Homo sapiens: one gene and its partners. The protein of the gene in region 2 purifies or fractionates together with the protein of the main gene of each other region. This does not show direct contact. Each region holds a gene or a part of one and is shown on either strand. Other genes may lie near its edges. The genes, in order: PUM1, CLOCK, RPRD1A, TDRD9, CMAS, KHDC4 and VPS50.

The links.
Region 1: the proteins of CLOCK (region 2) and PUM1 purify together in Homo sapiens (affinity purification with mass spectrometry; one large-scale study listed by BioGRID and IntAct). This does not show direct contact.
Region 3: the proteins of CLOCK (region 2) and RPRD1A purify together in Homo sapiens (affinity purification with mass spectrometry, with the first as the bait; one large-scale study listed by BioGRID). This does not show direct contact.
Region 4: the proteins of CLOCK (region 2) and TDRD9 purify together in Homo sapiens (affinity purification with mass spectrometry; one large-scale study listed by BioGRID and IntAct). This does not show direct contact.
Region 5: the proteins of CLOCK (region 2) and CMAS purify together in Homo sapiens (affinity purification with mass spectrometry; one large-scale study listed by BioGRID and IntAct). This does not show direct contact.
Region 6: the proteins of CLOCK (region 2) and KHDC4 purify together in Homo sapiens (affinity purification with mass spectrometry; one large-scale study listed by BioGRID and IntAct). This does not show direct contact.
Region 7: the proteins of CLOCK (region 2) and VPS50 purify together in Homo sapiens (affinity purification with mass spectrometry, with the first as the bait; one large-scale study listed by BioGRID). This does not show direct contact.

Annotation. Positions count from the first base shown.
Region 1 is NC_000001.11:30,964,718-30,968,217, forward strand, and holds part of PUM1 (pumilio homolog 1), read right to left. Parts: exon of another isoform or gene 3,446-3,500; intron 2,594-3,445; coding exon 2,450-2,593; intron 1,562-2,449; coding exon 1,265-1,561; intron 194-1,264; coding exon 1-193. UniProt on the Homo sapiens protein: Sequence-specific RNA-binding protein that acts as a post-transcriptional repressor by binding the 3'-UTR of mRNA targets.
Region 2 is NC_000004.12:55,456,410-55,459,909, forward strand, and holds part of CLOCK (circadian locomoter output cycles protein kaput), read right to left. Parts: intron 2,853-3,500; coding exon 2,739-2,852; intron 2,602-2,738; coding exon 2,483-2,601; intron 1-2,482. UniProt on the Homo sapiens protein: Transcriptional activator which forms a core component of the circadian clock.
Region 3 is NC_000018.10:36,033,060-36,036,559, reverse strand, and holds part of RPRD1A (regulation of nuclear pre-mRNA domain-containing protein 1A), read left to right. Parts: intron 1-2,722; coding exon 2,723-2,852; intron 2,853-3,500. UniProt on the Homo sapiens protein: Interacts with phosphorylated C-terminal heptapeptide repeat domain (CTD) of the largest RNA polymerase II subunit POLR2A, and participates in dephosphorylation of the CTD by RPAP2.
Region 4 is NC_000014.9:104,001,456-104,004,955, reverse strand, and holds part of TDRD9 (ATP-dependent RNA helicase TDRD9), read right to left. Parts: intron 719-3,500; coding exon 621-718; intron 1-620. UniProt on the Homo sapiens protein: ATP-binding RNA helicase required during spermatogenesis. Required to repress transposable elements and prevent their mobilization, which is essential for the germline integrity.
Region 5 is NC_000012.12:22,049,218-22,052,717, reverse strand, and holds part of CMAS (N-acylneuraminate cytidylyltransferase), read right to left. Parts: intron 1-3,500. UniProt on the Homo sapiens protein: Catalyzes the activation of N-acetylneuraminic acid (NeuNAc) to cytidine 5'-monophosphate N-acetylneuraminic acid (CMP-NeuNAc), a substrate required for the addition of sialic acid.
Region 6 is NC_000001.11:155,914,980-155,917,413, forward strand, and holds part of KHDC4 (KH homology domain-containing protein 4), read right to left. Parts: intron 1,759-2,434; coding exon 1,646-1,758; intron 986-1,645; coding exon 894-985; intron 1-893.
Region 7 is NC_000007.14:93,294,866-93,298,365, reverse strand, and holds part of VPS50 (syndetin), read right to left. Parts: intron 1,625-3,500; coding exon 1,530-1,624; intron 1,222-1,529; coding exon 1,123-1,221; intron 1-1,122.

The DNA of each region.
Region 1 (3,500 bases), on a different chromosome or scaffold from region 2:
GGTGGTGTCTGTGAATGTCCTGGTCCCTGACTAGGGAGAGGCATGCCCACGGGTCCAGGAGAGGAGGAAAAGCTAAGGCCGTTATAAAAACTGTGTCCAATGGGGGTCAAGCTGCTCGATGTCCTCTTATAAAGGTCACTGCTGCCAGTCAGGGAGTCACGGCGGGAGCCACTGCCAGTGTTGGAGTTTGCAACTAAAATGGAATTAAAACAATGCAGATAAGAACAGGCCTGTTCTTCGAAGAACAAGCCCAGTGACCTGTTCCTAACACTTTGATCCAGACTCCTTACCACCGCAAATTTGTCAGCAGAGACAGCCTAACTGTTAATGTAGCAGTACTAGGGGCAGATAAGTAATAAAGAGGACATGGCTCAGGTTAACATGACCATCAAACATATGCCAAATTTACCTTCCTATGGTGTCGTATATTATAGGATAAGGGAGGGTTAAAAAGCTCTGACGGCCACATGAACTATGGAAAAGGTGGAAGAAAATGGACTAGAAGAATGCCTTTCATCAATTGAAAAGGTTCAAGTAGAAAAATGGGATACAGAAAAAAGATTTGTAAATGGGGTACTGCCCCACTACACAAGACTTCTATATGAAAGCCTGTTTTCTCAGTGGGTTCAATCGAGAGTTAATGCTGCCCTCAATTCCAATTAAGATACTTTCTTTCACACATGCCCTTCTATTTAGGGATCACTTTTGTTTGTTTGTTTTTTATAATCTCTGCAATTATCCCATTATTCACCATACTACACTCCTGCTTTTTTCATCAAAACATTAAAAATATCTTGGTCTAATATCCTTCCTCCTAATTTTCCACATGTCTACCTTAAATTCTACTCAAAAGACTGAAGAAAACTTGTAACTCTTTAAGGCCTGCAGGCCAAGAACTCGGCTCAGTCTCAATTGTGGAGTATTTCAGCTCTGCTATCTTTAGTAAGTCCTCCTCCCTCAGTTTTTGATATCAATTTCTACAGTTCCCTCAATATTTTTCCCAAATACAGCAAAAATCTTCCCTAGATTTCAAATCCCTGAAAGAAACTGATTAAGTAAGTAGCCACATGAGCATGGATTGAAATAGGTCCCATCTGTATAACTTGATTTCAATAGTCTATCATCTCACAGATTATGTGGGATGGCTGGATTCCCACAAGGCTTGGTCCAGATCTGCCTGTGGTTCCATGCATTGCCAGTATTCCAGAAGGATTGTAAAAATAATTAAAATTCAGTCTTAAGAGCATATCAGTCTAATTTCTACCTGCTGTTCCAAACCCTCCAAGGGCGGATCCCAGGGTGGCGCCGAGAGAACTGCTACTTCCGAATCCCAAGGATGTGTTGGCAGGCTGGGCAGAGCCCTGGGAGAAGAGGGAGCTGCTCTGTGAATTGCTGTTCAGAGAGTTGTTGCCGTAGAAAGAACTGGATGCCAGGTTGTTATTGGGCTGCTGCTGGGGCTGGGGCTGAGGCTGCTGTGTTCCTAAAGGGCGAAATGGTCCATTTGTTGTTCCAGCAAGACCACCAGCTGCTCCATTTGCTGAAGCTGCGGCTGCTGCAACAGCTATGAAGAAGAAAGCAAACCGTTTGGCTATGAAAGGGACTGGCCACATTTCCAAACTACATTTTTATCTTTTTTCAAAAAATCTTTTAATGCTGCCTATCTTTTCAAAACAGACACAAACCATACAAATCTGTCTTTGATCCCTTCATATGAAGCTTCTATTTTCTGTTTCTACTTTCAATTTGAACTCAAAATACCACTAGAACAAGTTCACTATGCTGGTTGCTTTTAAGAGTATACAGATTAAAAGGGGTATAAACATCAAATGTATCCATTAAATACAACTACTTCCTAAAATCTTAAATTCCATAAATATCTATGTTGAGGGTTTCTTCTAGAACCATGTAATGCACATACACATCCTTCAAATTCCTATTTTAGCACACTGCTGTCTTCTAGATGTTCCTGTTATTGTTCTTAATTAAAAAATAAATAAATATAAACACTTAAAGTAAAAAACTATTACTCCTCCCAACCAAATGTATTATTTTGTCACTTCTCACTACTCTTTCCCACGTCCTCCACTCCTGCCCCTGTGGCAAAAAACAACCCCTCCTCTAAAATTATCTTAAAATAATGACTTGGATTTCTGCCAACAAAGCCATTTTGTGTGAGTAATGCAACTTCTATGTTCTCAGTGGAGCCAGACCTTCAGACCTTGCTTCTAACCAGCTGGCACATGCCACCCCTCCCCCAACCCACCAACCCCCCAACAAAAAGGAGAATCCACTAAGGTCACTTATTGCTTCTGATCTCTTTTTGAAACATTACAGGGTAGAACCGATATACTGAGAATTGCCAAAAGTTTATTTCAACATACTTTAAGAATCTCACTATCAGTCGCCACTTTTAGATCTCTGGCAGGAGTCCACTCAGATGTGCGCTCACCTGCTTGTGCAGCTGAGGAACTAATGATGACTGGGGCAGGAGCTACAAGTCGAACAGGAGCTCCAAGACCATTTCTCGCGCCTGCATTCACTACAAGGGCACCAGTTTGGTCATAGTAAGCAGCAGGAGCCAACACCGGATAACCTAGGAATATCAAGCCAACAAAGAAATGTATATGTTAAACAAACAAGTATCTCCTGGGCACCAACATATTGTCAATAATCACAAACTCAGCTTTGAGGTTGAATTGGCCAGATTTATATACTGGCTCCATCACTTAAATAGTTGAATAAACAGAGGCTACAAATGATTATAAAAATCATAGTACTTTCATACTACATAATAATTTAAGAACAAATATCCTGCAAAATAGCAGGAAAAACCTAGATAGGCTTTAAATAACATGATCTTTCAATATTATGTGAGATAGAATCTCCAAATCCCAGTTTAAGCCATATGAAAAACTGCAGGTGACTTCCTAAGAACACACAAAGGCTCAGTAACTAAAAAACAAATGAAACAGGTTAAAGTTATTTATTGAATTCATAAATGGCTCAGTTAAATTGGCTATGCTCTATGATCAGTAAAGGTCCATAAAAATACGCTGACATCTCTCAAAGACTTGTTTCACATGTAGAACATCAAAGTACATCTAATCCCATGCAAAGCACCAAACCAGCTGACAGTGAACCAAAAACAACATATATTCAAGATGTATCTATATAAACATGTATCTCAGAGGTAGACAGCTAAAAAGGACCCCTACTATTGGTTTAAGAGAAACCTTAAAAACGTAAGGGATGACCCTATCAAGGTATACCAGAAATTTCTCACTAATCATGCTGTTCAAAAACATCAACATAAAGACTAAGCCTTGTAAACTAGCTTGGCCACTCCATCTATCCCTGATTCTGAAACAGAAAACAGATAATCCACCAAGGAAAAACCACATATTCCAAGCTGCATGGACATTTAGATACCTCCAATATGACTTAAGACTGGCTCAGAACAATGCTCTCATCAGTGAACTATAGTCTAAGTGAGGGCAAGT
Region 2 (3,500 bases):
CCCAGCACTTTGGGAGGCTGAGGTGGGCAAATCACTTAGGTCAGGAGTTTGAGACCAGCCTGGCCAACATGGTGAAACCCGATTTCTACTAAAAATACAAAAAATAGCAGGGCACGGTGGCGGGCACCTGTAATCCCAGCTATTCGGCAGGCTGAGGCAGCAGGATCACTTGAACCCAGGAGGTGGAGGTTAAATAAATACATAAATAAATAGTCATTACTAGATAAACTTTTCCTAAACAAGTTAGTTGTTTCTATGTATGTATATATTTACCTATTTCTTTGTTTGACACAGGGTCTCACTCTGTCACTCAGCCTGAAGTACAGTGGTGTGATCTCAGTTCACTGCAGCCTCAACATCCTAGGCTCAAGCGATCCTCCTGCCTCAGCTTCCCAAGTAGCTGGGACTATAGGGATGCACCACCACGCCCGGCTAATTTTTGTATTTTTATTTGTAGAGGTGGGGGGTCTATGTTGTCTAGGCTGGTCTTCAACTCCTGGGCTCAAGCAACCTGCCCACCACAGCCTCCCAAAGTGCTGGGATTCTAGGCATAAGCCAAAATGCAGGCCCTTCTAAACAAGTTAATATATTTTAATTTTCCAGTACTAAAGAATGTGGTAATAAATAACCTTTAGATGCAAGCTTTTGGGTGGGTACTTCTCACTCTACACATTTTCCATTCACACATGCCTATAAACGCTTATTCAAAATTCAGACCTCTCTCCTGAATTACAGTTCCATATTTCCAAATATCTGAATGTCCTCATACATCTCAAATTCAATATGTCCTAAAATAAACTAACTGCTTTACTCCTCACACCCAATCACACAATTTTCCGTATTATTCTATACATGTGTAGTGGCCAGTGTCTAGAAATCTGATAGTTAAAAAAACATACTCTTTCATTTTTACCTTTCATCATCTAAGTGGCCATTACTAAATCTTTTCCATTTCATCTAAGTATTTTAAAAATCAATTCTATCTCATCCATCTTGAGTGCATTGGTTTAGACCCCTGCCATCACTGATTTGCTACAGTGTTCACCAGTCTCCCTGTCCTTCAACTCATCTTCTCTTCTAGGGCCACAATTACCTTACCAATACTCAAATATTATATGACTTCCCTGCTAAAAAACCTTCAGTGGTTCCTTGTGCTAAACTCTCTTCAGCATGGAGAAATAAACAAGAAAGAAACAAATTTTATTTCTGGTTTCTGATTACTTTTCTAGCCTTACCTCCCACTATCTCTTCCCCCTCCACACACTAACCCTAGACTCTAGTCATACTAAACAATGTATTCCATCCTGCCTCTGTGTCCCTGAATGACCTGCAGCACTCTGTAATAGTTGAGAGCTTGGGCTTTGAGAAAAAAACAATTATTAATTAATAGAATCAAGTCCCAGTTTCATCACTAATAGCTGAGACTTTGGGCAAGTCACTTAACTTCCCTAAGCCTGTTTCCTTATAATGTAAAATGAGGGATCGTAATGGCATCTAACTTATAGGGTTGTCATAAGAATTAATGAGATAATGCATATAAAATACACAGCATGTAGTAAGCACTCAAATGTTAACAACTATTATTTCATAAGATCAAAACAAACCAAGCAAGACTGGCTTAAGATCTTCTATTAATTCAGTACTTTGTCCTATACTATGATGTCCCCCCAAATTTATTTGAGACAGAGTCAGACTCTGTCTCAAAATAAAATGCAAACACAGTTCACTGCAGCCTCGACCTCCTGGGCTCAAATGATCCTCCTGCCTCAGCCTCCTGAGTAACTGAGACCACAGGTGTGTAACACCATGCCTGGCTAATTTTTTGTATTTTTTGTAGAGATGGGGTCTTGTCACGTTGCCCAGGCTGGTCTCAAACTACTGGGCTCAGGCAATCCTCTCGCCTTGCTCTCCCAAAGTGCTGGGATTACAGGCATGAGTCACCTCGCCTGGCCCCGCCGAAATTTTAAATCTTAGCCTGGCTGCCTCTTTCCAGTCAGTTTCTAGTGGTTAACTCTTTCACTTTCCCACTTCCCTACTTGTCATCTGTTTGTTGGGTCCAGGAAATAAAAATAAAATACCTAATTTTACATTTGAAAAGGTAAGTTATATGTGGCAAAGAGCCACTTGTACATTTCAAATAAAAATTTAAAAGTTACCTTCTAAAAATAAAGATTCCAAAAACCTAGATTTTTGGACTTTCCCTTTTAATAGAGATAATGAACAACACACAAAAGGATCCTAAAATCTTCCACAAAAGTAGGGCAATATTGATATATAATAATCACTGGTTAACTGCAAAGGATATATACTAAAAAATTAGTTATACAATTTAATGAGTGTCTTGATAACTCATCGTTTCAAAAATATTATCATGCATATTTAATGACTCATAGCCATTCCACCTCAATGTCTGCAGGAAGTTTCAGGCAGCTCTCAGCATATGAACTGAAATCCCCTTTGGGAAATAAAATTAAAAACATACCTTGATGAACTGAGGTGTAGCTAACCTGACAGTAGCTACAAAACAAACTCTATCTTCATAAGATGGCCTATGTGTGCGTTGTATAGTTCCTTCAAAACCATTGTGTGCTGAAGAGGATACTAAAACAATAGGGAAATATGTATCATCAGTTATGCCAGCAAAACCTAATTGTCACTGATATTCAAACATCTATGTCTTTAAGAGCACAGAAAAATAACAAGTTAAAACACATTGTGAGAGAAGCATTTTAACTCACCACTGTTTAAAGATTTGAAATTTCCTATAAATTTTACATATTCATAGGTAGATGGCTCCTTTGGGTCTATTGTTCCTCGCAGCATGTGACAACAGAATTCTAACTGATTTTTTGCTGAAATAAAAGAGATTTTAAAAATCACATATTTCTGATATAAAACAATGATTGATATACCACATAAAGTAAGATCATAAAAGTTGTGTAAGTTTACAACCATTATTTTCCCCAACAGAAGTCGTCAATGACATTTAGTTCATAAAAGTAGAGCACCTTCAGGAGAGGATCTCACTTTGTCTTTAATAGAAAAAATAGATTTTCTGGTGCAAACAACTTAATGTTTCCCTATTTTTAGCTACTCATCCTTTTCATTCTTTACTCACTTTCAAAGGAAAGTTTTGCTTCACATTCTAAAGCTAATCCTTCCATCTCTACCATTTATAGTCTTTCCTATTTTCTCTAGGACCCGGGCCACATCACTGTTCCTTATTCCTTTAGCATCTACACCTTTGGGTCCTTACTTTCTTCTTTTTTTTGAGACAGGGTCTTGATTTGTCACCCAGGCTGGAGTGCAGTGGCATGATCACTGCTCACTGTGGCATTGAACTCCTGGGCTCAAGTGAGCCCCCTGCCTCAGCCTCCCAAGTACGCAAGACTACAGGTGTGAGCCACCATGCCTGGCTAATTTTTAATTTTTTATAGAAATGGGGTCTCACTATGTTGCCCAGGCTGGTTGCAAGCTTCTAGGCTCAAGCAATCCTCCTG
Region 3 (3,500 bases), on a different chromosome or scaffold from region 2:
AAAGTGAAAATAGTATCTTGGTATTTGGACCCCATGCTCAATCACCTCATATGGAATTTGTCCTTTGGAAAACACTGGTAAATATATTTTTAAATCTTGTAAATTTTTATTTTAGTGTATATTGTAAAAGCAATTCTGAATTCTTTGAGAGATTGATATAACCCATGAATTTAAAAAACATTCTAGGGCCAGGCACAGTGGCTCACACCAGTAATCCCAGCACTTTGGGAGGCCTAGGTGGGAGGGTCACTTGAGCTCAGGAGTTCAAGACCAGCCTGGGCAACAAAGTAAGACCTTATCTCTACAAAAAATTTAAAAAATTAGCCAGGCATGGTGGCGTGTGCCTGTGGTTCCAGCTACTTGGAAGCTGAGGCAGGAGGATTGCTAGAGCCCAGGAGGTCGAGGCTGCAGTGAGCCTTTAGTCTGGGAGACAGAACTTGTCTCAAACAAAAAAAACAAAAACATTTTTTTTGTTTTTGTGGTAATAAATATTATTTACCATCTTCATTTTTTCCGTGTACAGTCCAGTAGTGTTAAGTACATTGTTGTGTAGCCAGTTTCCAGAACTGTTCATTTTGCAAAACTGAGACTCTGTACCCATGAATAATTTCCTATTCTCCTCCCATTCCCACAGCCTTTGGCAACTATCCTTCTACTCTTTTTTTCTATGAATTTGAGTACCTCCAATAAGTAGAATCATACAGTGGTTTGTCTTTTTTCATGACTCGATTATTTCACCTGGCATGATGTCCTGGAGATTCATCCATGTTGTAACATGCGTCAACATTTCCTTCTTCTATAAGGCTGAATAATACTTTATTGAATATATAATTCACATTTTGTTTATTCATTGATCAGTGGGTTAGGTTGCTCTTAACTCTTGGCTATTGTGAATAATGCTGCTAACATTGTAAAATATTTTTATTTCAGTTGCTACTTTTTGTTTTGCATTGTTTTATCTTTTTCTTCTTTTCAGTTGCTACTTTTGAGTCTCAAAGATTAACATGCCCTTTTAATTATGACAGGAAGCATGGTCTAGTTGTTAAGAGGGATTTGCTTGGCTGTTGGACTTTTTGGATTCCAATCCTGGCTTATCTCTTCCTCATTATTTCCCTGAGGGCAAATAATGTTTTTGGCTTTGTTTGTTCAGCTGCCAAATAGAGACATATTGTTAGGATTGAGATAATGTATGTAAAGTGCTTGGAATAGTGTGTAGCACATAGTAAAAGTGCAGTGAAAGGATTGTTTGTTCAGGTACCCATTCAAAAGTGATGCAGGCAATCTCCCAATTAGATAATACAAATTTGAGTTTCTAAACTCATTTGACACTGGGAAGGCAAAAATCTGGATTGAACAATACCAATCTATTTTGTGGGTGGGATTGAGAGGGCAAGGATGGGTACAAAAGAGACAGGACTGAATGTTAGGATAGGGTCCCGATATCTTAACCAGTTGTACACTGTGGTTTATCTAACCAGACAAGGAGCCTGAAAACCAGAAGCTGGTCTCTGTTATAGCCATCTCTTCTTATTTTTATTCCATGCCAGCAACTTGCAAAATCATGAAAAGTGGTAGACAGCAATTTAAACAGACAAACCAGGTTATACAGTGGCATGGCACAGGTTTGTAAAGTTTGATCAGTTGTGACTTAGTATATGAGAAGGTTGGGCTTCTGGTTGCTCCTCGAGAATGATGTGAACTCAGAGGTGACTTTTTAATATGTCAAATGCTTAAATTTGTAAATTGAATACTTAACATCTAGAGGACCACATGTAGCCTGATCAAGATTTTTGTCTTAAATCCAATAAGATAGCCCACATCAATAGGATACTGCATAATTGGTCCTGACCATAAGTTTCCTACACCACTGTACTATGGATGCCACAAGGTATGATGCTTCTGAATATAACTGTACTACATTGAGTGATTCAAATTTAATTCTAGTAAAATATAAGAATAGTATAAAATATTATGTTCAACACTGTTTTCCTTATGTATAATCTTATTTGAGTCATATTCAGTAGTAGTATGCTATTTAACATTGTAACCAGTAAAAATGTACTGTGGCCCACAACTGTTGAAATCTTGTCTATTTCCTTAGAGAAATGACTACACCCACAGAGCATAGTGAGTAGGGGAATATTTTTGTCATAATGAATTCAGTTTAAAATTTATGGCCATGTAATCTAAAGACAGAAACATCTAAACTTTTCCCATTTACTCTCCCTAGCAGTTAATCTATTAGCTTGGCAAATATTTATTGCATAAACAAAAAATAGTAATTGATTGAAGGGACATCTCTTTCAACCTGTTTTACATTTCATGCTCTTCTGTTGTTTCACAATAGCTTAATAATGATTTCGAATTAACATGTCTATTAAAACAATCCTAAATTCAATGTAGGATTTAGGGTGCCATCTTAATAACATGAGCAATCACCATCTTATTTTAAATGACTATATTTCATATAGTTTGTAATGGTTTTACTAAAATTTAATACAGGATAGAGTCACCGAGATGCATTTTTACATAGACATTAGTTCTGGCGATTTTAGCAGCAGTGACTGGTTAGTTTGGTAGTAAAATGAGAGACTAGGGTTGAAATGATACATAAAGGTTAGTAGGGTTATTTTAGTTCTCAAAATGCTTAATTTAGGTATTGAGAAAGTTTGTCCAAGTAAAGATGTTTTAAGTAGATTTTTAACTTTTTCTTATTTTTCAGCCAAACCAAACAGGAAGCTTACTTTTCTCTACCTAGCCAATGATGTCATACAGAACAGCAAGAGGAAGGGGCCAGAGTTTACAAAAGATTTTGCACCAGTTATAGTGGAGGCTTTTAAGCATGTTTCAAGGTATGATCATAGTTTTGGGTATTAGGTAATCTGTTTTAAATGTACCATATGTCCTTTTGCTAAAATTTGCCTTAAACTATTAAAATAAAAAGTAGGGAATATAGTTTTTTGATGCTTTTATTTGAAAAGACTTCCCTCTACATGGCATTTATAAATGTATTAAATGCCTTCTCTGAAGGAAAAATATTTTTTGAACTGTTGCTAAGGTGGGCCTTTGGAGTACTTGAATTACAGCTTTCCTTTAAGAGACCAGAACCAACTGCTATATTGGAATGAACTTCATTAAAAATGAATGAAGGTATTGAAGTAAAAATTTGTGTGTTTATAAAGCTATCAGTCTTGTAACAAATATTTCCATATACACTTAGTACTGTTTCTATTCTTTTTTTTTTTTTTTTTTTTTTTTTTGAGACAGAGTCTCACTCTCACCCAGGCTGGAGTACAGTGGTGCGATCTTGGCTCACTGCAACCTCTGCCGCTTGGGTTCAAGCGATTCTCCTACTTCAGCCTCGCAAGTAGCTGGAATTACAGGTGCCTGCCACCATGCCTGGCTAATTTTTGTGTTTTTAGTAGAGACAAGGTTTCACCATCTTGGCCAGGCTGGTCTTGAACTCCTGACCTCGTGATCCACCTGCCTCGGCCTCCCAA
Region 4 (3,500 bases), on a different chromosome or scaffold from region 2:
AGACACAGAAAAGAGGAAGGAAAAAAAGCTGATCCCACAATTACTCATTATAAAGGGACATAGAAAACAGCAGCATTTAAAGACAATCCTATTATAGAGCCCATAGATACCAGAAAACATCCTCTCATTAAAACTGTAAAATGTGGGTAACGCCCTAGACAGTAGCCTGATGTGTAATCAATAGTGAGCCCAGATTGTGAGTGAGGGGGAATGTGGCAAGACAAGGATTTTTCTGGAATCAAAATTAGATGACACTAGAAATTATATCACTTAGACTATTTGGCAAAACTATCTACAAAAAATTAACTTTGACACTTTGGGAGGCCAAGGCGGGCGGATCACGAGGTCAGGAGTTCGAGATCAGTCTGGCCAACACAGTGAAACCCTGTCTCTACTAAAAATACAAAAAATTAGCTGGGCGTGGTGGTGTGTGCCTGTAATCCCAGCTACTTGGGAGGCTGAGGCAGCAGAATCGCGTAAACCCGGGAGGCAGATTGCAGTGAGCCAAGATCATGCCAGTGCACTCCAGTCCAGACAACAGTGCAAGACTCCGTCTCATAAATAAATAAATAAATAAATAAATAAATAAATAAACTTTGACAATGACCAAAGTGAATTACCAACATCTCAGGAACAACATGATCAGGGATGGAGTTGTCCCAGAAATCCTTGTGTACCAGCCGGTAACAGTACCCTCTAGACACTCGTCCAGCACGGCCTTCAAAGGAGAGATGTGCAAACAGTGTTTGGCATTAATTACTTTAACATCAGCATGAAGGTATCTTTTTAAACAGTCATTAAATATTAATTAAGCAAAGCCTTAAGTATCTTCCACCAGACTATGTCAGTAAAAACTTTAGAATACATTAGTGTATTCTTAATAAGTTATTATTTTAAACATTATTCTAAATAAGAATGACTATCCTAAAAAATTAGAATAAATAGAACAAGACTAAATGCTGACTTCTATTCAGTGACCAATATTATAAAATCCAATGCATATTTCTGAAGAAAACAACCTTGGCCCAATATGCAACAGAAACCAAGTACACCCTTCTTGAAAATGCACAGTACATAACAGAAAGTCACGAGGTTGGCGACAGGCCCTACAATGCCATCGAGGAGCTGTCTCAGCACCCTGTGCTTCCCACAGCTCCTTGCCCCACTGCAAAGCACCCTCCCAGCTGTCAGCCACACCGCATTACGTGACCGAGTGAGGAACAAGCAGAAGGTTCAGAACCAAGGCTGGCCCACAGAGACCATGACACAAACTACTACTCTCTTGTGACTCTATCACCTATGAAGTAGCAACTCTTTTATCCTAACACATAATAAAATAGTCCAAGGAGAGAGAGTGAAGGGAGGGGTAGGAGGGAGTCTTAAAATGCAGCTTTAAAAGAAATGGGGCAACCCAAAAAGCATTCTTTCCCCACCTATGGGGATCTAGATCCTAACAAAAGATATCTATCTAGAAGGGTGAAGGCCTCTTGGCAATGTTTTCTTTAACCTATGATGTAGGTCAAGAGGGGTGAACCAATGTTTTGTTTCTGACTGATTATGGATTAACAAAGGTACTATTAAAATTTTTTATCTAAATCTACCCTTTGTCTTTTGTTTATTAAGGCATAAGATAGATGCTAAAACAGACCAAGTTGTCTTTTTCTCCTACTAATAAAAATAAAAAATCCCAACATAAAGAGGTCCCCGCTACTCTAACCCTTATAAAAAAATAACTTAAAGTCCTTGTTCCCACCTGACAAAACTCACTGTCTCAATCTCTTGGCTCAAGAGATTGAGCCAATCTCAATCTCTTCCCAGGGAGATCTGAGACCAAATAAACACATTTACAATGGTGACAAAGTGACATCAATGCCTAAGGTTTTGGTCAACCTCTTAATCTTGACAGGTTGACCAAAAGGGAAAGTTGTTAAATTAAGTTTAGCCTACACCTGTAATCCCAGCACTTTGGGAGGCCGAGGCGGGCAGATCACGAGGTAAAGAGATGGAGACCATCCTGGCCAACATGGTGAAACCCTGTCTCTACTAAAAATACAAAAATTAGACAGGCATAGGGGTGCGCGCCTGTAGTCCCAGCTACCTGGGAGGCTGAAGCAGAGAACTGCTTGAACCTGGGAGGTGGAGACTGCAGTGAGCCGAGATCACGCCACTGCACTCCAGCCTGGCAATAGATCAAGACTCTGTCTCAAAAAGAAAAAAAAAAAAGAAAAGAAAAGAAAAAAGGTTAGCCTAAAGATGCCTCCTTACATATTTTAAGTTCAGCCTAAAAGTCTCTCTGCATATAGTAAACTATAACCTAACTAGATATGTAAAAAGACTATAACCCACTCTTATGCCAATCACCGGGTTTCAGCCAATCAAAGGCAACCAACTGCTCAAACCACATTCAAAGAGGACCAATGCCCAGGTGTAGTCAATTCGGCCATTTCTGTACCTCACTTCCATTTTCTACACGTCACTTTCCTTTTTCTGTTCATAAATCTTCCTTGACCACGCAACAGCACCAGAGTCTCTCTAAACCTCTTCCAGTTCAGGGGCAGACCAATTTGCAAATTGTTCTTTAAAACTCTGTTAAATTTAATTTGTCTAAAATTTTTTTCTTTTTTTTTTTTTTTTTTTTGAAACAGCATCTCACTCTGTCACCCAGGCTGGAGTGCAGTGGCGCAATCATGGCTCAACTGCATTGACCTCCCAGGCTCAATCTATCCTCCCACCTCACCCTACTGAGTAGCTGGGAGTACAGGCGCATGCCATCATGGTTGACTAATTTTTGTATTTTTTATAGAGATAGGGTTTTGCCATGTTGCCCAAGCTGATCTCAAACTCCTGGGCTCAAGCAGTCTGCCCACCTCACCCTCCCAAAGTGCTGGGATTACAGGCATGAGCCACTGTGTCTGGCCAAAATTTTTCTTTTAACAGTGGTGCTGGCAAAGATACGGAAAAAACAGATCTCACACATTGCTCATGGAATGTAAAATGACACAGCCACCATGGAAAGAGTTTACAGTAGTTCCTTATAAAACTAAACATAGGCCGGGCACAGTGGCTCATGCCTGTAATCCCAGCACTTTGGGAAGCCTAGGCAGGCAGATCACGAGGTCAAGAGATGGAGACCGTCCTGGCCAACATGGTGAAACCCCATCTCTACTAAAAATACAAAAATTAGCTGGGCGTGGTGGGGCATGCCTGTAGTCCCAGCTACTCGGGAGGCTGAGGCAGGAGAATTGCTTAAACCCAGAAGGTGAAGGTTGCAGTGAGCCGAGATCACGTCGTTGCACTCCAGCCCAGCGACAGAGTGAGACTCCGTGTCAAAACAAAACAAAAGAAACTAAACATAGATTTACCACATGACCCAGTAACTATATTCTTGGGTTTTTATACCAGAGAAATGAAAACTTATGGCCACACAAAAACCTGTACATGAATATTCACAGCTGTTTTATTTACACGGCAAGAATTGGAAAAACCTCAAATGTCCTTAA
Region 5 (3,500 bases), on a different chromosome or scaffold from region 2:
GGGAAAAAAATGTTCTCTTGGGAAATGTCATAGTCAAAGGTATATAACAAAGTAAAGTAGCAATGAAAACCTAGTGCATTTTTAAAATAGAGATGACGAGAGGATAAGATGAAATTAGAATACAATAAAAAATAAACAGGGAAGGCAAAAGACATGGTAATTTGGCATCTAATTTACATTAATTGAAATAAATTGCTGAAGCCATTTACTTCATTATCCTGATTTTTACTGCAATGAAAATTCAATACCAGAGGGTTCAGTGGTCTTTAAGTAATGTTTAAAAAGCAAGAAAAAAAACAGAATTTTGGAGGAGGTTTGCTTTTCTTCCTTCCTTCCTTCTTTCGTTCATTCATCCTTAATTTATGAACCATTTACTAAGTGCTTATTCTGTCCCAGGCACGATTCTGGACACTAGGGATGTAATAACATATAGAGCATAGTTTATTTTCTTGAGAAAGTCTTGGCCTACTGATGGAGACTGAGGCCAATATAGCGGTGTAATTCTCTTTAAACCATTAGGAAAAGAGAAGCGAGGGATCAATTAAGTAACTACGCTCTTTTCAGTGCTTTACTTTTTACAAAGTACTTTCACAGTGCCTGCTACATATCAGGTGCTCAATATAGATCTGTTGAATGAATGAAACAGTAAGGGATTAAAAGGATGGTTTCTGAAGGAAGAGGTTCAATTCTGGCTCCACCACATGCTAGCTATATGACCATGGGAAAAATCCATATCTCCCTATGCCTCAATTTTCAGTAAAATGGAGGTAAGTAATAATAGTGGGTACCTCATATGGTTTAGAGGATTAAATATAAACCATTTACTACAGAATAAACATTTAATGTTAGCTATTCAAAATACCAAAATAGGAATGGTAATAAAGTAACATCTACTCTGTCTCATTTAATCCTCACACTCAATCTTCAGAAGGTAGACTGAAGTTCTGCTTCCAGACCTTCAAAGGTCCAAATGTCTAATTTGTATGTTATGTTAAGCAATTACACTGTGAAAAAAATATGAAAACAGTATCCCATATGTACACTTAAAATACTATGATCATAACCTATGAAAGAGACTGAGTAGATAATTTTCCTTTGGTTTAGGGACATAAGATGGGGCTATGCAAAAGAGAAAATGAGCAAGTGAACAAACAGGCCAGTCAAGCAGAGTGAATGTCAAAGTCTAATGCCAATGGCTTTAGCCTCAAATGAAGTCACACCACATCTAACAGGACCAACAGGAATATCAACCATGGTGCCTGTGATAACTATTTTAAATCAGAAGCTGCCATTTTAGGGATAATAACAGCATAGGCCTTTCATTAATCAAAAGTCTATACCCTAAGCATAAAACTAAAACATGTTTACTTTTCCCAAGTATGTTAGGCAACACTTACAAATCAATTTGTTCTGAGGTTTACTTACACAGCACTGAACCACTGTTGAAAATTAAGCTCTTACAAAATCAACTCTGGCAATAACTTTGTACTAAAGGAAAAAAAATTATCTCAGCATTTTTCTTAACTACTAACTAGCCTAGTTAGTATGCAAAGTTAGCAACCTTGAAAAGTACTGTTAGCTTTGATTCTGAGCAGGCCAGAGAAATCTGCCTCAATTAAGTCAAATCGTGGTTTTGAACAAAATAATCTCAAAGGTATCTTCGAGCCCTGAAAAACACAAATCAGACAGCTGCAATTTTCTTCAGCTCTCTCCTAAGGTAAACATTTTTTGAAGAAACAAAAGAGAGGGTAGGAGGCAGGAAGGGTGCTCCAAAGTCCTCTTACAGCTTCATAGTAAGTCAATTGAATATAAGTCAACACATTTTAATGATCTAGTATATAAAGCATACCATGATGAATAAGAGGGTACTTGCTCATAAGAAGCTTAGCTTTTCACCTAGTATGGCAGGAGTCTCCCCAGGCCAAATTCTGCCCACTCCTCAGCCTGTTTCTGTAACATTTTATTGGAATACAGCCACACTCTTTCATTTATGTATTGTCATGGCCACCTTCACAACATACACAACAGTAGAGCTGAGTGATTGCAACAAAGACGATCTGGCTTACAAAACCTAAAATATTTACTATCTGGCCCTTTACAGAAAAAGTCTGCTGGCCACTGAAACTGAAAAAGAGAATAAAGACATCTTTCCACTAACTCTTCAAAGTCAAAGAATGTTAGCACCAGAAATAATTTTAAAGATCATTACAACTTTCCCGTTTTACAAGCAATGGGAGAGTTTCCCATTTTACAAGCATGGAAGATAGTAAAAACCTTCTAAACAAGAGGAAAATGTCAATAACAGATTACATACTATGTGCCAGGCACTATTCTAAGGGCTGCACGTACATTATCTCACTTAATTCCCTCCACAAGCCTGTGAGGCACACACTTCAGTACATTTTGTAGATGAAGAGACTGAGGCACAGAGAGGTTAAGCGATTTACCCAAGTTTGCACAGTTAACACATGGTGATGCTGGAATTCAAATCCACAGTTTGATTTCAGAGTCTGTGATCTTATCTCCCTGCATAGGGCATGCACTAAATGAAGGTACAAACGACGTAGCTATGTATGGGAAAACAAAGGCACAATTACTTTTCACTGAGGGGATCAGTAAAGGCTTCATGGAGGAAGAAGTGCTGGTCCCTTCTATTACCTTTTGACCTAATCTCTCCAGATGCCTGGAAAGGATGACAAATAGCACATAGCCACAAAACTTGAACAGAGTAAATTCACATTGTTACATGATACTGTTAAGTTAGAAATACATTCATTTTGCTAGTTTAGAAAAAAAATTTTTTTTTTTTTTTTGAGACAGAGTCTTGCTCTGTTGCCCAGGCTAGAGTGCAGTGGTCCAGTCTCGGCTCACTGCAACCTCCACCTCCCGGGTTCAGGTGATTCCCCTGCCTCAGCCTCCTGAGTAGCTGGGATTACAGGCATGCACCACCACAACTGGCTAATTTTTGTATTTTTGGTAGAGATGGGGTTTCGCCATGTTGGCCAGGCTGGTCTTCAACTCCTGGCCTCCGCCTGCCTTCGGCCTCCTAAAGTGCTGGGATTACAAGTGTGAGCCCAGCCAATTTTATTTCTTCTAATCGCCACCATTGATATAGTGACAGATACCACAGGTGGCTTGAAGAAGTATAAAACATTATCCCTGTGGTCAATGAGTTTACACTCTAGTCTAGAAGTATTAAATAAAACTACTTGGTACAGAAAAGGTTGATACTAGAGTCTTTTTTTAAAAGAAGTTTTGTACAAATGCTAAAATGTGGAAATGGGAAAATCATTGGTCAATATATATACATATTTTCCAATCATTTCATAGCAAAATCCCCAATGCCTGCTGTAATGGTTGGTTGTTGGGTTCTGACCAACAGAATCTATTCCCCCTCACTTTTGGTAATTGTACTCCAATTTTCCTCTTGATGAACCTGTCATGTTTTTCAGCGGGGGCTCCATCGCTGGTTTCAAGAGTGGAAGATGAAGCTATACTGT
Region 6 (2,434 bases), on a different chromosome or scaffold from region 2:
TTCTAGATACACGTTGGTTGGAAACAAAAGGTTGTCTGTATACAATTTTTTTAAAACTATTTTCTCTCTCTCTCTCTCGGCACACGTTTGTTGGAAATAAAAGGTTGTCTGTATACAATTTTTTAGAAACTATTTTCTCTTTCTCTTTCTTTTTTTTTGAGACAGAGTCTCACTCTAGTGCCCAGGCTGGAATGCAGTGGTGTGATCTTGGCTCACTGCAACCTCCACCTCCCAAGTTCAAGTGATTCTCCTGCCTCAGCCTTCCAAGCCGCTGGAATTACAGGCATGCACCACCATGCCCAGCTTAATTTTTCTATTTTTAGTAGAGACGGGGTTTCACCATGTTAGCCACGCTGGTCTCAAACTCCTGACCTCAGGTTATCCGCCCACCTTGGCCTCCCAAAGTGCTGGGATTACAGGCGTGAGCCACCGTGCCCAGCCCAAAAGTATTTTCACTGGCCAACAGATTATAGAGGTTGGATTAAACACCTGAATGAACATCAGGTTAGAAAATTAATAGCTTTATTTATGTATTTATTTATTTATGAGATGGAGTCTTGCTCTATTGCCCAGGCTGGAGGGCAGTGGTCTGATCTTGGCTCACTGCAACCTCTGCCTCCCAGGTTGAAGCGATTCTCCTGCCTCAACCCCCTGAGTAGCTGGAATTACAGGCGCCCACCACCATGCCCGCTAGTTTTTGTATTTTTAGTAGAGATGGGATTTCACTATGTTGGCCAAGCTGGTCTTGAACTCCTGACCTTAGGTGATCTGCCCACCTCGGCCTCCCAAAGTGCTGGGATTACAGGCGTGAGCCACTGCGCCCGGCTGAGAAAACTAATAGCTTTAGACCAGTCTTAGCCACTCCCCTGTTCCCCCAGCTATATCACACTCACCATGGCTCCCTGTTAAGGTCCCAGACCCATTCCTTTCATCGGACTCTGTTTTTATTCCAGTCACTGGAAAGGCTGGTGGAGGCATCAACTGCCTATTGAAAAACAAAATGAAACTTTCTTTCAGACAATTTAAATTTTCTTAACTTATCCAGTGGATTAGAAGTGCAATTATGTCTGCAGACAATCCTTCAAATTCATTTTAACCATTAATTTCAACCCCTTCCACCTTCCCCCAGCCCCTTTATAAAAGTATAAGGCCTGTCTACACAGCAATTGCCATGACAAAAATCGAATGAACTGTTATAGAAAGATATCAGCTCCTTTCTTATGAAGGTTAATATACTAATATAAGAAAGGAAAATTCAAGCACTGTGTGGCAGGCTGAACTCCCACATTCATGTACTTCCATCCATGATATTCTAATGACTCTAAAGTAGCAAAAATAGCTGAATTATGTAACATTTCTGTTACTGTCTACCCTTAGGAAAATGGCCAAGATGCAGACAATGGAAGTCAAGAAAGATGTCTGAACAAGTAATAAATTATTCAAAACCGAATATAACTGCTTCTAAATCTGTAAAAGGCCTATCATATTTTACTTCATTGCATCAATTACAACAAACAGAAGCATATTTGATTCAAAGATTTCATTTCAGTTTCAGAATACTTAAGCTCATAGCAATGATCATTACTCTCACTAATGGTGCAAACAAATAACATCTGAATACATTTGCATAATTATTCCAACTTACCTGTCCCTCTCTCTCTCTTTGCCTGAGGAACTTGCTGGCTTCGATCCTGCACCTTCAATCTCATTCTGACTGGAGAAGCCTGTACCTAAATTAGTCATATGAATGGGTCCATGCTATGAGCAGAAAAATACAGTGGCATTAGCAAATCTACAACTGCCGTATTGACTTTAGCTCCTTAATGTAACTGTCAAGTGCCTCATCTTTCTGATAAGTTGTAGTACGTTAAACTACTACAAAGCTCTTTGGGATCTGCTGTGTAACTGTAGTCAAAAGTAGGGATTTTTTTTTTTCTCTATAGGACTTGGACAGGGGTGTTATAATTCATTATGCTATCTATGGCCTGTTTTTAACTGACTGCCCATAGCTCCACTAGTTTCTATAAACCTAGCTAGAAACTATAAAAAAATGCTTTGGTTTAAAGAATGATTCAAGGATTCTGGCAAAATGGAAAGGTACTTCTGATAAAATTGCACCAAAACTACAAATTAAGAATCTTTTTAACTTTAGTGGCTAACTTTACAATTACATGTACAGAATCACTCCTTTTCTAGCAGTCTTGAGGGGTGGGGAGACTGGAGGGAGATATCACTCTCTTTTTTAGGTGGAGGGTAAAAGAGAGAGCACCACTGAAAGCCAAGGTTTTAAATACAAACCACATACTGGTAGATCAAGAGCTTTGAGTGAGATGTATAAGAAAGTAAGAACTCTCAGAGGCTTTCAAGAGTCTGTTGAATAGGATAAAAAACCTAACCAAAATGAATTCCAGAAAGCAGAAATCCTAGTACTGGG
Region 7 (3,500 bases), on a different chromosome or scaffold from region 2:
TTGTTTTAGTCAGGGCTTAAGTTTTAGCAGACAAGGAACTTATAAATAAAGGCAGTGTTAGGGCTTCCTGTTGGTCCCTTCCCACTGTTTCCCTGAGGTTTAGTCAATTAAATTTTTAAAAAATTTTTAAACATTCTCAGTCATGAAACTCAAAGGCTCTGCTTTAGTATAGTTCAATTTAAATCTTTTTCAAACAATTTACTTCATTGTTTACAATTAACAGAGATAACTTGTATTCAAATATATATAATAATTAATTAATCAATGGTTTGGTGTTCAGTCATCTCTCTTTTGACATGGCATATATCACTGTGAGCAGGTGTTGACTATGAACAAGGAGAAAAAGCAGAATTTCAAATCATGACTCTCTCTGGGACCAAATAACAAGGAAATCAAAACTTAAATTCAATTGTAAAAAGTAAAAGTTCAGAATAAAAAGTAAGATGAAACTCAACTCAAAGGACAAAAGGGATACAACTTGGGGTCTAGCTTATATCAAGAGAAATCTCATGTTAGCTCTCCCTTCCCTCAATTTATTGCTGCTGTAAGGATATAATCACACTGCTATTATAAACATTCTTTCCCACCTTCCTCCACTACCCAAACCATTCCTAGTCACTCTTTTAAATATTAGCAGTGATTGTTTTGCAAAGCAATGCAGTATACAAATTTGGATTTATAGGGGAATTCTGAATATCACATCCTCTCCTCTAGAATCCTTCTTACATTTAAAAGATAGATACTCTCAAGCACCCCCTCACTGAGCACTGCCTCTACTGATTTAACTTCCTTATAAGCACACCCATATGTATGCAGGTATGGAACAGTGGCCAAATTCTTTCTGTGAACCTTGATATAATAATCATGTTTTACTCATTAAAAAATCAGTTCAATATTTTAAGCCCCTCAAGACAAAAATATATTAAAATGTACAATGAATATGTAATGAGAACATTTCATCATATTTTGGTTAAAAAAATCCTTAACCATCTTAAAAAAGCTACAACACATTCAAATTCAAAAGTAATTGTTTAAAATCAATTAATGCTATAAGATTAAGTATTAGACAAAAGTATTCTCATTACCTAAATAAGTCGATTCATATCTTATTAGAGTTCTTACCTATGGTAATTCTTGAAATAATTGACACTTTGTTTTCTAATAGATTCCTGTAAAACTTCAGACTTGCTACCACAAAATTCTTCTCCAACTTGCATCAACCTAGTTGGATAAAAAGGTTTCAGTAAATTTCAGCAGCAGCCTTATAGAGAAAAAGAAGTGTGGTTTCTCTTTCTTCAAAGATAAAAAAAATCACTAAAATTTGGACATGTGAAAAAATTCTAAAGATCACAAATCCATAAAGGTTTACAAACACCCAAAGGGCAGAAATATTTAAATACACTCACAAACTTAGCAGCAAAAATTATCTTCATTTCCATAAAGAAGTTATAGATGATAACTCACTAGCTCATGATTTATCATGGTTGAATGACTCAAACTAAAGAATAAGACAAGATCTTAAATACTACCTGCTGATTATATCCAAAACAAAGATGAAATCATCATATTTGAATATAGACAAATCAGTTCCAAGCAAGTAGGTTTTTACTTTTAGCTGAACATCCTGTAAGGCAAAGAAAAAGAAAATCAAGCAAACCCAAAATATAGAAAATAAGTTATCAGAAGCATTTACTCTATAGTTCCAGATTAAAATGAGACAGGAATATATTCCTAATTTGTTAACGAATATCTATTTAGGCCAATAGCCAACATCCTTAAGGGATGTAATAGAGACAATCCCATTTCCTATACCAGGAATGCCATCAGGTTGCCAAACTGAATGGAAAGTAGCTACATAAAGTGCTAAGTCAGTATTTCAAAGTACACTGAATTACCAGAAATTCTATCATAGATTGTAAAATTTTACCAAAGTACACTTAAGGCCTATTGGGAGACTAAGTCAGAAACAAATCATATCTGATCCTGGGTGTATATTCAATAACTATAAGATTTTCCTTTCTTTTTATGCATAATACTCAGAAAACAGTCAGCCTAAATCCACAATTAATGATAAATTAAATATTTAATTTTAATAAATGTTTAATATGGTTATGAGTTTAATATAGACAAATGAGAAAATATATGTCAAACCTCTTACAACCACAAAAATAAATTTTAAATACTAAAGCATAAAATCAAATAGCATATCGAATACAAAATTATCAAAAATTAGAAGAGCACTAAATTATAAATATTAACTGATTCATGAAGAAATTTATGTTTTCAAAATATATTTTCCTAAACAATTTTTTTCAAAACATATCCTATAAAAGATGGTCAAGCTGGGCATGGTGGCTGATGCCTGTAATCCCAGCACTTTGGGAGGCCAAGGCAGGAATATCACTTGGGCCCAGGAGTTCAAGACCAGTCTGGGCAACATAGCAAGACCCCATATCCACCAATAATAATTTAAGAAAATTAGGCATGGTGGTGCACATCTGTGGTCCCAGCTACTCAGGAGGCTGAGGCAGAAGGATCACCTGAGCCCAAGAGGTCGAGGCTGCACTGGGCCATGACTCTGCCACCACACTCCAGCCTGGGTGACAGAGTGAGACCCTGTCTCAATCAATCAATCAATCAATCAAAAGAAAGAAAGAAAAAAAAAGATGGTCAAAATAAAGATCAGCCTCATTAGAAAAATCAAAAATACATTTTAAAAGACCATAACATGGCCAAAGGGTCTATAGTCTTCCAAGGTTCAAAGAAGTCCAAAAAGAGTAAGTTATCTTCAAAGAAATTACACTGTGATCTAAGAAGTAACAAATTATCTGATTACAACAACTGAGTTACTAAATTGTAAAGAAAAACTTAATAAGATACTGCTATGGTCTGAATGTTCATGTCTACCCAAAATTCCGAAGCTGAAATTCTAACCTCCAAGGTGATAATATATTAGAAGGTGGGGCCTTTGTGAGATGATTAAATCGTGAAGGTAGAGCCCTCATTAATTAGATTAGTTCCCCTATAGAAGGGACCCCAGAGAGCTCCTTCATCCCTTCCACTATTTGAGGATACAGCAAGACAATGTCTATGAACCAGGAAGCAGGCCCTCCCTCCCAACAATGCTGGCACCCTGATCTCTGACTTCCAGCCTTTAGAATTCTAAGAAATAAACTTCTCTGTTTATAAACTATGCAGTCTAGAATATTTTGTTATAGGAGCCCAAATGGACTAAAACCAGATATATTCAGCCAATAAGCATGTAAGATTCCCTCAAGGTACAAAGATCATTGACTGAGAAAAAAAGAATTATTCATTCTAAACTATAATCTGACCTAAGTATGCTATCTACTTAGTTACTCCTTTTCTAAAATTAACAGAAAAAAAAATTAAGAAAACACAGATAAATGAAATAATAAACAGAACATCTCACTGAGAAAGCATACATTTCTCTATGATAGTGGAAATTTGCTAGGCCTCTAAAACAAAAGATGTACTCA